Linked DNA regions of Homo sapiens: region 1 is linked to region 2. Evidence: fine-mapped expression QTL. A gene starts in region 2. The other region holds a variant in brackets. All regions are shown on one strand. Distances are from middle to middle.

What was found. PIP is the estimated chance that this variant, and not a neighbour inherited with it, causes the effect.
Region 1: its variant is the best candidate, but not a certain one, in a credible set for the expression of NUFIP2 in whole blood (INTERVAL, PIP 0.60).

What each region holds. Positions count from the first base shown.
Region 1 is chr17:29,315,136-29,320,514 of GRCh38, forward strand. No RefSeq gene overlaps it. Among named protein-coding and RNA genes, the nearest start is that of NUFIP2, 24 kb to the left of the region's middle. The variant G/A (reference allele first, on the strand shown) is at 3,105.
Region 2 is chr17:29,291,462-29,296,840 of GRCh38, forward strand. It overlaps NUFIP2 (nuclear FMR1 interacting protein 2), which reads right to left and starts at 2,687. Exons shown (of 4, transcript NM_020772.3): 1 at 2,322-2,687. The coding sequence starts at 2,598. RefSeq lists silencers at 1,356-1,535, 2,166-2,285 and enhancers at 1,992-2,752, 2,446-2,545, 2,856-3,055.

The sequences.
Region 1 (5,379 bases), 24 kb after region 2:
CTCGGGAGGCTGAGGCAGGAGAATGGTGTGGACCCAGGAGGCGGAGCTTGCAGTGAGCCGAGATCATGCCACTGCACTCCAGCCTGGGCGACAAAGCGAGACTCCGTCTCAAGACAAAACAAAACAAAAAACAGAAACAAAAAAGAACTATAAAAGGACTTATACATAATAGAACTTTACTTAAATGTCCAAAATAACTTTTGTAAGAAAAAATTGTAATGTAAAAAAAGAAATGTCTTTTTCCAAGAAGAATAATAAAGGTTTAAAAGGACAAACAATATTAATAAAACTGAGCTGGGAGGGTTGGGAGTGGGAGGTAAAGAATGAGGGAAAATAAAAGTATGCTAAATACCCCAATCATACACAGGAGAAATCAAGAGCTGCTGTTTCATTTTAACATTGAAAATAGGTGGGTTTTTTTAAAATTTAAAGGTAGGCACTTTTAGAATAAAACCCAGATGATCATCTTTCGAAGCAGTAGACAGCATTTTAAAAGCAAAGAAAACAGTTCATATAGAAATAGACAAAAGGCCGGGTGCTGTGGCTCACGAGGCCCAGGCGGGTGAATCACGAGGTCAGGAGATCGAGACCATCCTGGCTAACACAGTGAAACCCTGTCTCTACCAAAAATACAAAAACTTAGTTGGGCATGGTGGCACGCACCAGTGGTCCCAGCTACTTGGGAGGCTGAGGCAGGAGAATTGCTTGAACCCGGGAGGTGGAGGCTGCAGTGAGCCGAGATCGCACCACTGCACTCCAGCCTGGGCGACAGCGCGAGACTCTGTCTCAAAAAAAAAAAAAAATTAAGATGATTAAAATAATCTCAAACATCAGAACATCTATTCAATCCAAGCTATACCAGTGTGTGTATGTGTGATAAACAATATCTTATTCATTCATTTATATTCCTTAATCTTATAGATCATAAAGTCATGAAAATTAAGTTAGTAAAACATATGAAATGCTATAAGAGCCGGGTGCGGTGGCTCACACCTGTAATTTCAGCACTTTGGGAGGCTGAGACAAGCGGATTACTTGAGCCCAGGAGTTCCAGACCAGCCCGGGCAACATGGTAAAACCTCATCTCTAGAAAAAAATACAAAAAATTAGCCAGGCATGGTGGTGCATGCCTGTAGTCCCAGCTACTCGGGAGACTTTTTTTTTTTTTTTTTTTTTTTTGGAGAGGGAGTCTCGCTCTGTCGCCCAGGATGGAGTGCAATGGTGTGATCTCTGCTCACTGCAACCTCTGCCTCCCAGGTTCAAGCGATTCTCCTGCCTCAGCCTCCCGAGTAGCTGGGACTACAGGCGCCCGTCACTATACTCAGCTAATTTTTGTATTTTTAGTAGAGATGGGGTTTCACCATGTTTGTCAGGCTGGTCTCTAACTCCCCACCTCAGGTGATCCGCCCACCTTGGCCTCCCAAAATGCTGGGATTACAGGCATGAGCCACCGTGCCGGGCCTACTTGGGAGATTGAGGTGGGAGGATTGCTTGAGCCTAGGAGGTTGAGGCTGCAGTGACCTGTGATTGCACCACTTCACTCTAGCCTAGGTGACAGCGCAAGACCCCATCTCAAAATAAACAAAATTATTTCTATGGTAATTCCAGTTTGATTTAAAACATAGAAATGTACACACAGCTATATAGCATAATGATTGAGATTATAGACTTTTAGATCTAGATTTGCATCTCAGATCTACCATTTACTAATGACATGACCTTAAGCAAATAAATTGATACTCTCAGCCTCCGTTTACTCATTTATAAAGTAAGAATAAAAATATCTTCTCATATAACTATTGAGAGGATTACAAGAGTTAATATGTTTAAAAAGGAAATGAAGTTTCCTGGCATATTCAGTAAATAACTAGTATATCCTTATGTATGTGATAATTTTTTTGAGACAGAGCTTCACTCTGTCACCCAGGCTGGGAGTGCAATGGTGTGATCTCGGCTCACTGCAACCTCTGCCTCCCTGGTTCAAGAGATTCTCGTGCCTCAGCCTCCTGAGTAGCTGGAATTACAGGCATGTGTCACCATGCCCAGCTAATTATTTGTATTTTTAGGAGAGGTGGGGTTTCACCATGTTGGCTAGGCTGGTCTCCAACTCCTGGCCTCAAACAATCCGCCAGCCTTGGCCTCCCAAAGTGCTGGGATTACAGGTGATAACTATCATAAATATATGTGTGCACCTACCCAAACATACACATAGAAATAAGGCTGAGCTGGCCAGGCACGGTGGCTCACACCTGTAATCCCAGCACTTTAAGAGGCCAATGCAGGCAAATTGCTTGAGCACAGGAGTTTGAGACCAGTCTGGGCAACATGGTGAAACTGTGTCTCTACAAACAATGTAAACAATTAGCCAGGCAGCTGGGTGCGGTGGCTTATGCCTGTAATTCCAGCATTTTGGGAGGCCAAGGTAGGTGTATCACTTGAGGTCAGGAGTTTGAGACCAGGCTGGCCAACATGGTGAAACCCCATCTCTACTAAAAATACAAAAATCAGCCAGGCAGGTGGCATGAGCCTGGAATCCCAGCTACTCAGGTGGCTGAGGCATGAGAATCACTTGAACCCTGGAGACGGAAGTTGCAGTGAGCTGAGATGGTGCCACTGCACTCCAGCCTGGGTGATAGAGAGAGACTCTGTCTCAAAAAAAAAAAAAAAAAAAAAAAAATTGGCCAGGCATGGTGGCATGTGCCTGCATTCCCAGCTACTCAGGAGGCTGAGTGGGGAAGATTGCTTGTGCCTAGGAGGTTGAGGCTGCAGTGAGGCATGATTGCACCACTGCACTCTAGCCTGGGTGACAAAGCAAGACCCTGTCTCAAACAAAAAAAAAAAAGAGAGAGCAAGAAAAGAAAAGAAATAAGGCTGAGAGAGACTATACCAAAATGTTAGCAAGGATTATCTCTAATGATGAGATTCTGAGTGATATTTTTTGTTTCTTTCTACTTTTTGCTTCTCCTTCATGCTTTTCTGCAACTTCTAAAATTTCTACAAAGAACATACTTGTTTTTACAATTAGAAAAAATACATTATTAAACTATATAATACAAAGTTTGTAGGATATCAGTACAAATAGAAATATTATTTAGGCCGGTTGC[G/A]GTGGCTCATGCCTATAATCCCAGCACTTTGGGAGCCCAAGGAGGGCAGATCACGAGGTCAGGAGTTCGAGACCAGCCTGGCCAACATAGTGAATCCCTGTCTCTACTAAAAATACAAAAATTAGCCGGGCATGGTGGCACATGCCTGTAGTCCCAGCTACTTGGGAGGCTGAGGCAGGAGAATTGCTTGAATCCGGGATTTGGAAGTTGCAGTGAGCTGAGATGGTGCCACTGCACTCCAGCTTGGGCAACAGAGTAACACTTTGTCTCAAAAAAAAAAAAAAAGAAAGAAAGAAAGAAAAAAGAAAAGAAATATTATGTCCACCCAAAAACAATGCCCACTCTTGGATACCTAAAATGCACAAAATTATCTATAAATGCAGCTGTGTCTTTCATATAGTTTAAGTTCAGTTTTAGCAAAACAAAACAAATGTCTTTTCCTTTGCATGGTGAATGCCTTGGAGTTACTCCAGAATAACATTGAATTATTCACATTGAATGGTGAATGCCTGGAGTTAATCCAGAATAATGTGAAATCAAACTTTATTTCAGTAAGAACCTCTAAGCCTAAAATCCTGTAAACTGAATCAGTCTTGGTACATGTATCTGTTCCAAAAACTAGTCTCCAAATATACAGAGATTAGGGCTTGGCACTAGGAGATTAGATGTGGTAGACAAATGCTACTTGATGGTGAGGGTAGAGATGGGGTGACGGTAGAGGATGCTTAAACCCAACATCAATCATTTAAATATTGTTAGTAACATTTATTTCTACCCCAAGCTATCCTTTACCAGAGTAGCATGTAATAAACAACATTTCATTCATTTATTCATTTATTCTCTCAATTAATATGTATTTAAGAGCCTGCTATACATGCAGCATGCAGCACTGTGTTAGGCATTGCGTTAACATGAAGAACAAAACAGATGGGGGGCTGGGTGCAGTGGCTCACGCCTGTAATCCCAGTACTTTGGGAGGCTGAGGCGGGTGGATCACTTGAGCCCAGCAGTTTGAGACCAGCCTGGGCAACATGGTGAGATCCTACTAAAAATACAAAAAAAAAAAAATAGGCTGGGTGCAGTGTCTCACACCTGTAATCCCAGCACTTTGGGAGCCCGAGGCAGTGGATCACCTGAGGTCATGAATTCTAGATCAGCCTGGCCAACATGTTGAAATCCCACCTCTACTAAAGATACAAAAAATTAGCTGGGCATGGTGGTGGGCACCTGTAATCCCACCTACTCAGGAAGCTGAAGCAGGAGAATCACTTGACCTTGAGAGGTGGAGGCTGCAGTGAGCTAGGATCGTGCCACTGCACTCCAGCCTGGGTGACAGAGATTCCATCTAAAACAAAAACAAAAACAATAACAAAAAGATAGCCAGGTGTGGTGGTGTGGTGGTACACAGCTGTGGTCCCAGATACTCAGGAGGCTAAGGTGAGGTGGGAGGATTGCTGGAGCCCATGGGGTGTGGGTGTGGAAGTTGCAGTGAGCTGAGATCGCGCCACTGCATTCCAGCCTGGGTAAGCGAGAAAGACCCTGTCTCAAAACAAACAAACAAAACAAAACAAAAAACAAAACAAAAAGACAACAACAAAAACAGATGGTATCCCTGCCTACATAGGGCTAAGAGCCTGTTAGAGAAGACAAATACATACACAAATAGACATATAATTGCAAATTGTGATGAGTACTCTGGAGGAAAGTATAAAATACTGTGAAAGAGAATGAGGGAGGTAGGGCAGGAGAGGGATACCTAAACAGTCTCTCTGACATCTCAACCAGGACCCAAAAGATAAGAGTTAGGGGAGGGGCCAGGCACGGTGGCTCATGCCTGTAATCCCAGCACTTTGGGATGCCGAGGCAGGTGGATCACGAGGTCAGGAGTTCAAGACCAGCCTGGCCAAGATGATGAAACCCTGTCTCTACTAAAAATGCAAAAATTGGCCGGGTGTGGTGGTGGGCGCCTGCAATCCCAGCTACTCGGGAGGCTGAGGCAGAGAATTGGTTGAACCTGGGAGGCGGAGGTTGCAGTGAGCCAATACAAAGGCCATTAAGATAGAAAAAAAGCTTGGAGCCTTGGGGTAACTGAAAGAAGACCAGTGCAACCTCTTATGGAAAGGTGTGTGTAGGCTTCACTGTTCCTCATCCCAGTAAGAACAGAGCACAGTGCAATGATACAGTGCACAGATGGCAGCAGCACAGGTCTTTCTCAGGTCTGACACCTAACTTTAACTTTATTGCTGGGCCTTGTTTCAGCATCTTCAAAATGAGA
Region 2 (5,379 bases):
TGTCAAAGCAACAGTACTGTGACCAAATCATACACTCGCCCCAAACTGTTTACATTCTGTCAAAACTGCTAATTCCAGTTTCCTCCTCTTTATCCACCCCTTCCAAGACAAGAAATATTTGGAGGAATACCACCTTGAATGGTTCAGCGGTTGCTTCCACATGTAGAGAGAAGTCTGGCAAGAGTATATTAACCTGACCGATGAGATACAATTTTTCAATCTCAACAGTAATATTGCCTTATGCAGCCATAATATGGTAGTATTTTCTCATCTTTTGAACAAGATCTAATGCTAAAAAATCTAGTTATATAGTCCCTAACAGTTTTTAAACTGTTCCAAATCTTTAGGATTAAAACACCTAACTCGTGCGTATGTGTTCACTTCTATTGCATACTATCGGGTCCCTACGAAGTCCCAAAATGGAAAATCTGACATTCTAATTTCAGTCTTCAAGTTACAATCTGCAATAAAAAAGCACTTAGTATTTCTCCAGCTCTCAACAATTCCTTCTATCAAATTTGATACGCTGGGTTTAACATACGCTTTCTTACGCTTCATTTCTCTTCGATTTATAAAGAGCCCTTATTTTTTAAAATCTGCGTGGGTTATAAACTATTAAACTCACTTCTCGTGAAATACTTTCTTACATGACTTTTACCCTCAATTTCTCGTTTATTAAGATTAGTTTGGGGATCAATATCGATTTTAAAATACGAAAAACACCTTTCTTTTTAACACGGAGAGAAGCCTCATCCGAGGCAAGATGGTAGTAGTCTAACCTCATGGATGAGCCACTTGGGTTCACCCTTAAGGACAAGAAAGAGGGGTCAAAAAGCTCGCACTCTTCCCCATCCTAACATTTTTTAAAATCCCTCACCTCAAAGACACTACCCAAGCTCAGAAGGTAAGTGCTGGGTCGGGAGGGGAATGGAACAAGGTTTTTGGATTTTTTTTTTTTTTTTGTAGAAAATGAGCTGCTAGAAGGAAAAGGCCCAAGTGAAAGCCTCAGAGGCGGAGTCGTGAGCGAACCTGGCAGGAGACGAGGTTCCTGTGGCAGAGAAACTCGTGACCGGGGAGCTGGGTTCCCGCTGGGTACCCCACCCGGCCTCAGGCACCGCCTCTACCCGAAATGAATCCCCCCGCCGCCCCCCCAGGCCTCCTGCCTCTAGGAGCGCCGCGGCCGCCGCCCGCGGCCTCCTTCCCTCTCAGCTCCGCTTCGAGGCCGGCTCCCCGCCCCGACTGCCCGCGCCTCCCGCCGCACCCGGGAGCGGGAAACGCGGCCGCTGGCGCGCGGGGCCCTGCGCAGGCCGCTCCCCTCGTGGCCGCTTCCCTCCCCCACCCCAACCGCCCCCGCCCCTCACCCCAGGGACCCGCCCGGGGCCGCGCGCCGCCACCGGGTTACACAACCCCGGCCGGCGACGGGGGGGGGGGCGGCCGCGGTGCGGGGGGCGCCGGCGCCCCCGCAGTGCAGGGGGCGAGGCTGCGGCCGGTGGTGATCCCGGGTCACCCGGCTCCGCCGCCCCGTGTGGCCCTCGACACCCTTCCCCCTCCGCTCCTCAGTGGGCCGGAGTCGGTGACAGGAATCGGCTTCCAACATGGCGGACAGGAAGCGGCCCCGCGAGGAGGAGAGAACATTCCAGCCGCGCCGGCTCTGGGGGGAGCGGGCGCGGGGCGCCGGCCTCGGGAGGAGCCGCGGGACAAGACTGCGGGGTCCGGCGCCCAAAAAGGGCGTTTAGTGGTGGAAATGACCCGTGAGATGAGGGGTCCCAACAGCCCCCCCCACCGAGACGGGGAGCCCCAAGGCCACAGGTGGGCTTGGGGTGGCGGGTGAGGGGCACTTCCTCAACTCACCCTACCTACCCACTCCTCGCCGCCTGCAAAAGGGTCTCGCGACACCATCCGAGTCGGGATTCGCTAGGCCTTCCTGAGTTACACCTCGAGGGATTTTTTGGGGGGGTAGGTTTACCCCATCTCAGGGCCCCCAAATTGAGGTAACTCCAGGGACGCAGGGAGGTGAATGGGAAAAGAATAATGAGGTTGGACTTGCAAGGCCGACCCAGCAGGTCTCCCTTCAGCCGGGGCCGGGGCCAGGAAGGTCACGCTGGCCTGGCTGGGCCTCTCCCATGCTGGAGGGAAGGAGAGGGCGCTGCAAACCCCATTGCTCAGCCCGAGCTCTAGAATGAAAGGGGCATCCCCAGAGCCGGAGGGGACACACACACACACACCCCGACCCCGTCCGCGCTTTTCGGATCCAGCCCCACCCCCATCTCTCCTGTCCTCCACCCCCAACCCCCTTCCCCCACCCGTCCTCCCTCCCAGACCTGTTTTCTTCTTCGGCGTTTCCTGGTGCTGCTGGAGGGTGTGTTTCTGCTCATGTTTCAGCGGCTTTGGCTGGGCCTTGGGGCTGCCCTCGGCTCCATGCTGCAGGTATTGGTGAGGCTGCTGGTGATGATGGTGGTGGTGGTGGTTGTGGCTGTGGTTGTAGAAATAATAATGGTGGTGGTGGTGCGGCTGCTGCTGCTGCTGCTGAGGGTGATGGTGCGGATGGTGGTGGCTGTGATGGTGCTGAGGCTGTGGCTGGCCGGGCTTCTCCTCCATTGAAAGCGGCTGGGACTCCCTGGCTGAGGCTGCGGGCTGCTGCACCGTCAGGATCTGAGACTGCTTCTCAGGGCTCACTCAGTATATCTGAGCGCGTCTCGCCAGCGCACTGGTTAACCGAGCGATTCTGCGAGATTGGCAGCCGCACTCCAACAATCAGGAGCCACGCTGTGCCGCAAGCCCCGCCCCCAGCTCAAATCCTCTTTCCTTCCCCTTCGCCGCTGCCGCCTGGCCAACGCCACTTACCCTGTGCAACCTCACAGGGCCGGGCCTTCAACGTCAGCACTATGGCTCTCTCTTCTGTCGCTTTCTCTCCTTCACCACGCAGTCTGTGAACAGCACTTTCTACACTCCTCGCCGGCAAGCAGGCTCGTGTCGAGGGTAGCAGATTCCACTGGCGATTCCACTGGTGCTGTGAGCCATCTGCTGGCTTTGCACCTCTTAGAATCTGGTGTTTTTTTGTTTTTTGTTTTGTTTTGTTTTTAATCCTTTTCCGGGTAACCAGAAAGGGAAGCTCAATTCCCTTAACCCCGAGACCACTAAAGGGGCAATACAAAAAGAGGAAATAAATACATTTTTAAGCATACAAGAGCTTCACAATCCAGTAGATCATTTTGTATTCTGGATTCATTTTGCTTTGTATTCATATGCTAATCTCTTCCTTTCCACGAAGGGATTATAGGGTTCCACAATGGGGTATCTGTGTAATTTTCTAAAAGGGCACAAAGGGTTTAAATCATTGTTTCTTTGTAGTTGGAGGCAAGGGAGAGCAGGAGGAATGAAAATTTACACTGAAGGTTTTTTTTTTTTTAATTAAACTCTGCAGGTGAGGTCAACTGTGGAACCAAAATAGGTTTTAGAATGAGAAGTTTCAAGAGCAAAGGAAGGGGAGAAAGAGCACTTAAAAGTTATTAAGTGGGTTTGTTTTTTTTTTTTTTGGCACTTATGGAAAAATTGAAATTAAAAGAAATATTCTGTAGCGTTTTGTAGTGTAGATTTAACTTATCCTGCATTACCACATCACAGTATATGATTTTCAAAAGCAAATGTTAGAGCCATGATAGTGGTTACTCAGGAAGGAAGAGGGTTGTGATGGGGAGGGACACAGGTTACTCTGATAATATTTCATTTTGGGGGCTAGGTGGTGATTACATATATTTGCTTAGTAATTATTTGTTAAACTGAATATACAGATAAAATGCACTTTTCCCAATGTATGTTATAGATTGGGGGATTTTTTTAATTGTAAAATATTCATAATATAAAATTTACCATCTTAATATTAAGTGTATGGTTCAGGTGCATTAGGTACATTCGTATTGTTGTAGAACCATGACCATCATCTATCTCCAGAACTTTTTCATCATTCCAAACTGAAACTTCATACCCAATAAAAATAAATGTCCTTTCCCTCCTCCTTCCATCCCTTGATAACCACTGTTCTGTTTTCTGTCTCTACGAACTTGACTATTCTAGGTACCTCATATAAGTGGGATTGTACTGTATTTGTCTTTTTGTGACTAGCTTTTTTGCATAATGTCTTCAGAGTAGCATACATCAGAATTTCCCTCTTTTTTAAGGCTGACTAATATTCCATTATATGTATATACCACATTTTGTTCATTCACTCAGCAACGGACATATGGACTGTTTCCTCAATGTATGTTACGTTTTTGAATTTTTAAAATGTGGCTTGAATTCCTACAACAGGACAACATTAAAGGAACAAGAAGCTTGAAAGCAAAAAGTTTATGCTATGAAATTAATGAATGTCAATGCAAAAGCTTATTTAAAACGTAAAAGCTGGTTTCCAATAACAAATGTCATTGAATCCTGAAAACCATGACCAAATTTTGGCATGTTCTATACAGTAAGGATTTGTGTTGCCTTGTTAAATTTTATTTTATTTTATTTTGAGATGGAGTTTTGTCCTTGTTGCCCAGGCTGGAGTGCAATGGCATGATCTCAGCCCACCGCAACCTCTGCCTCCTGGGTTCAAGCAATTCTCCTGCCTCAGCCTCCTGAGTAGCTGGGATTACAGGCATGCGCCACTGTGCCAGGCTAATTTTGTATTTTTAATAGAGATGGGGTTTCTCCATGTTGGCCAGGCTGGTCTCGAACTCCTGATCTCAGGTGATCTGCCCACCTCAGCCTTCCAAAGTGCTGGGATTCATGAGCCACCAGGCCCAGCCAGCTTTGCTAAATTTTAAAGAAAAACCTCTTTGGGGGTACATTTACCCAATTTTGAGAATGAAAACCCTAATAATAATATCATATCACAATAAGTCTTTACCACTGAATAATATTCTGCCACGTTCCCAATTATTAAAGAAAAAACAGGTCAGGTGTGGTGGCTCACACCTGTAATCCCAACGCTTTGGGAGACCATGGCAGATCAGTTGACCCAGCAGTTCGAGACCAGCCTGGGCAACATACAGAGACTCTCTCTCTACAAAAATTTTTAAAAATTAGCCTGGCATGGTGGTGTGTGCCTGTAGTTGGGAGGCTGAGATGGGAGGATGACTTGAGCCCTCCAGGTGGAGGCTGCAGTGAGCTGTGATTGTGCCACTGTACTCCAGTCTGGGCAACAGAGCGAGATCCTGTCTCAAAAAAAAAAAAAGAAGAAGAAAGAAAGAAAAGTATATATACAATTTAAGATTATGTTGGTATTTTTTGTTGACTTAGACATTCAGTTGGAAGGCTTGAATTTCTGAGTTCCAACTTCCCTGTCTAGGTTTTCTACATTATACCTGCAGGCAAACCAAAAGCACTCATTCTGTA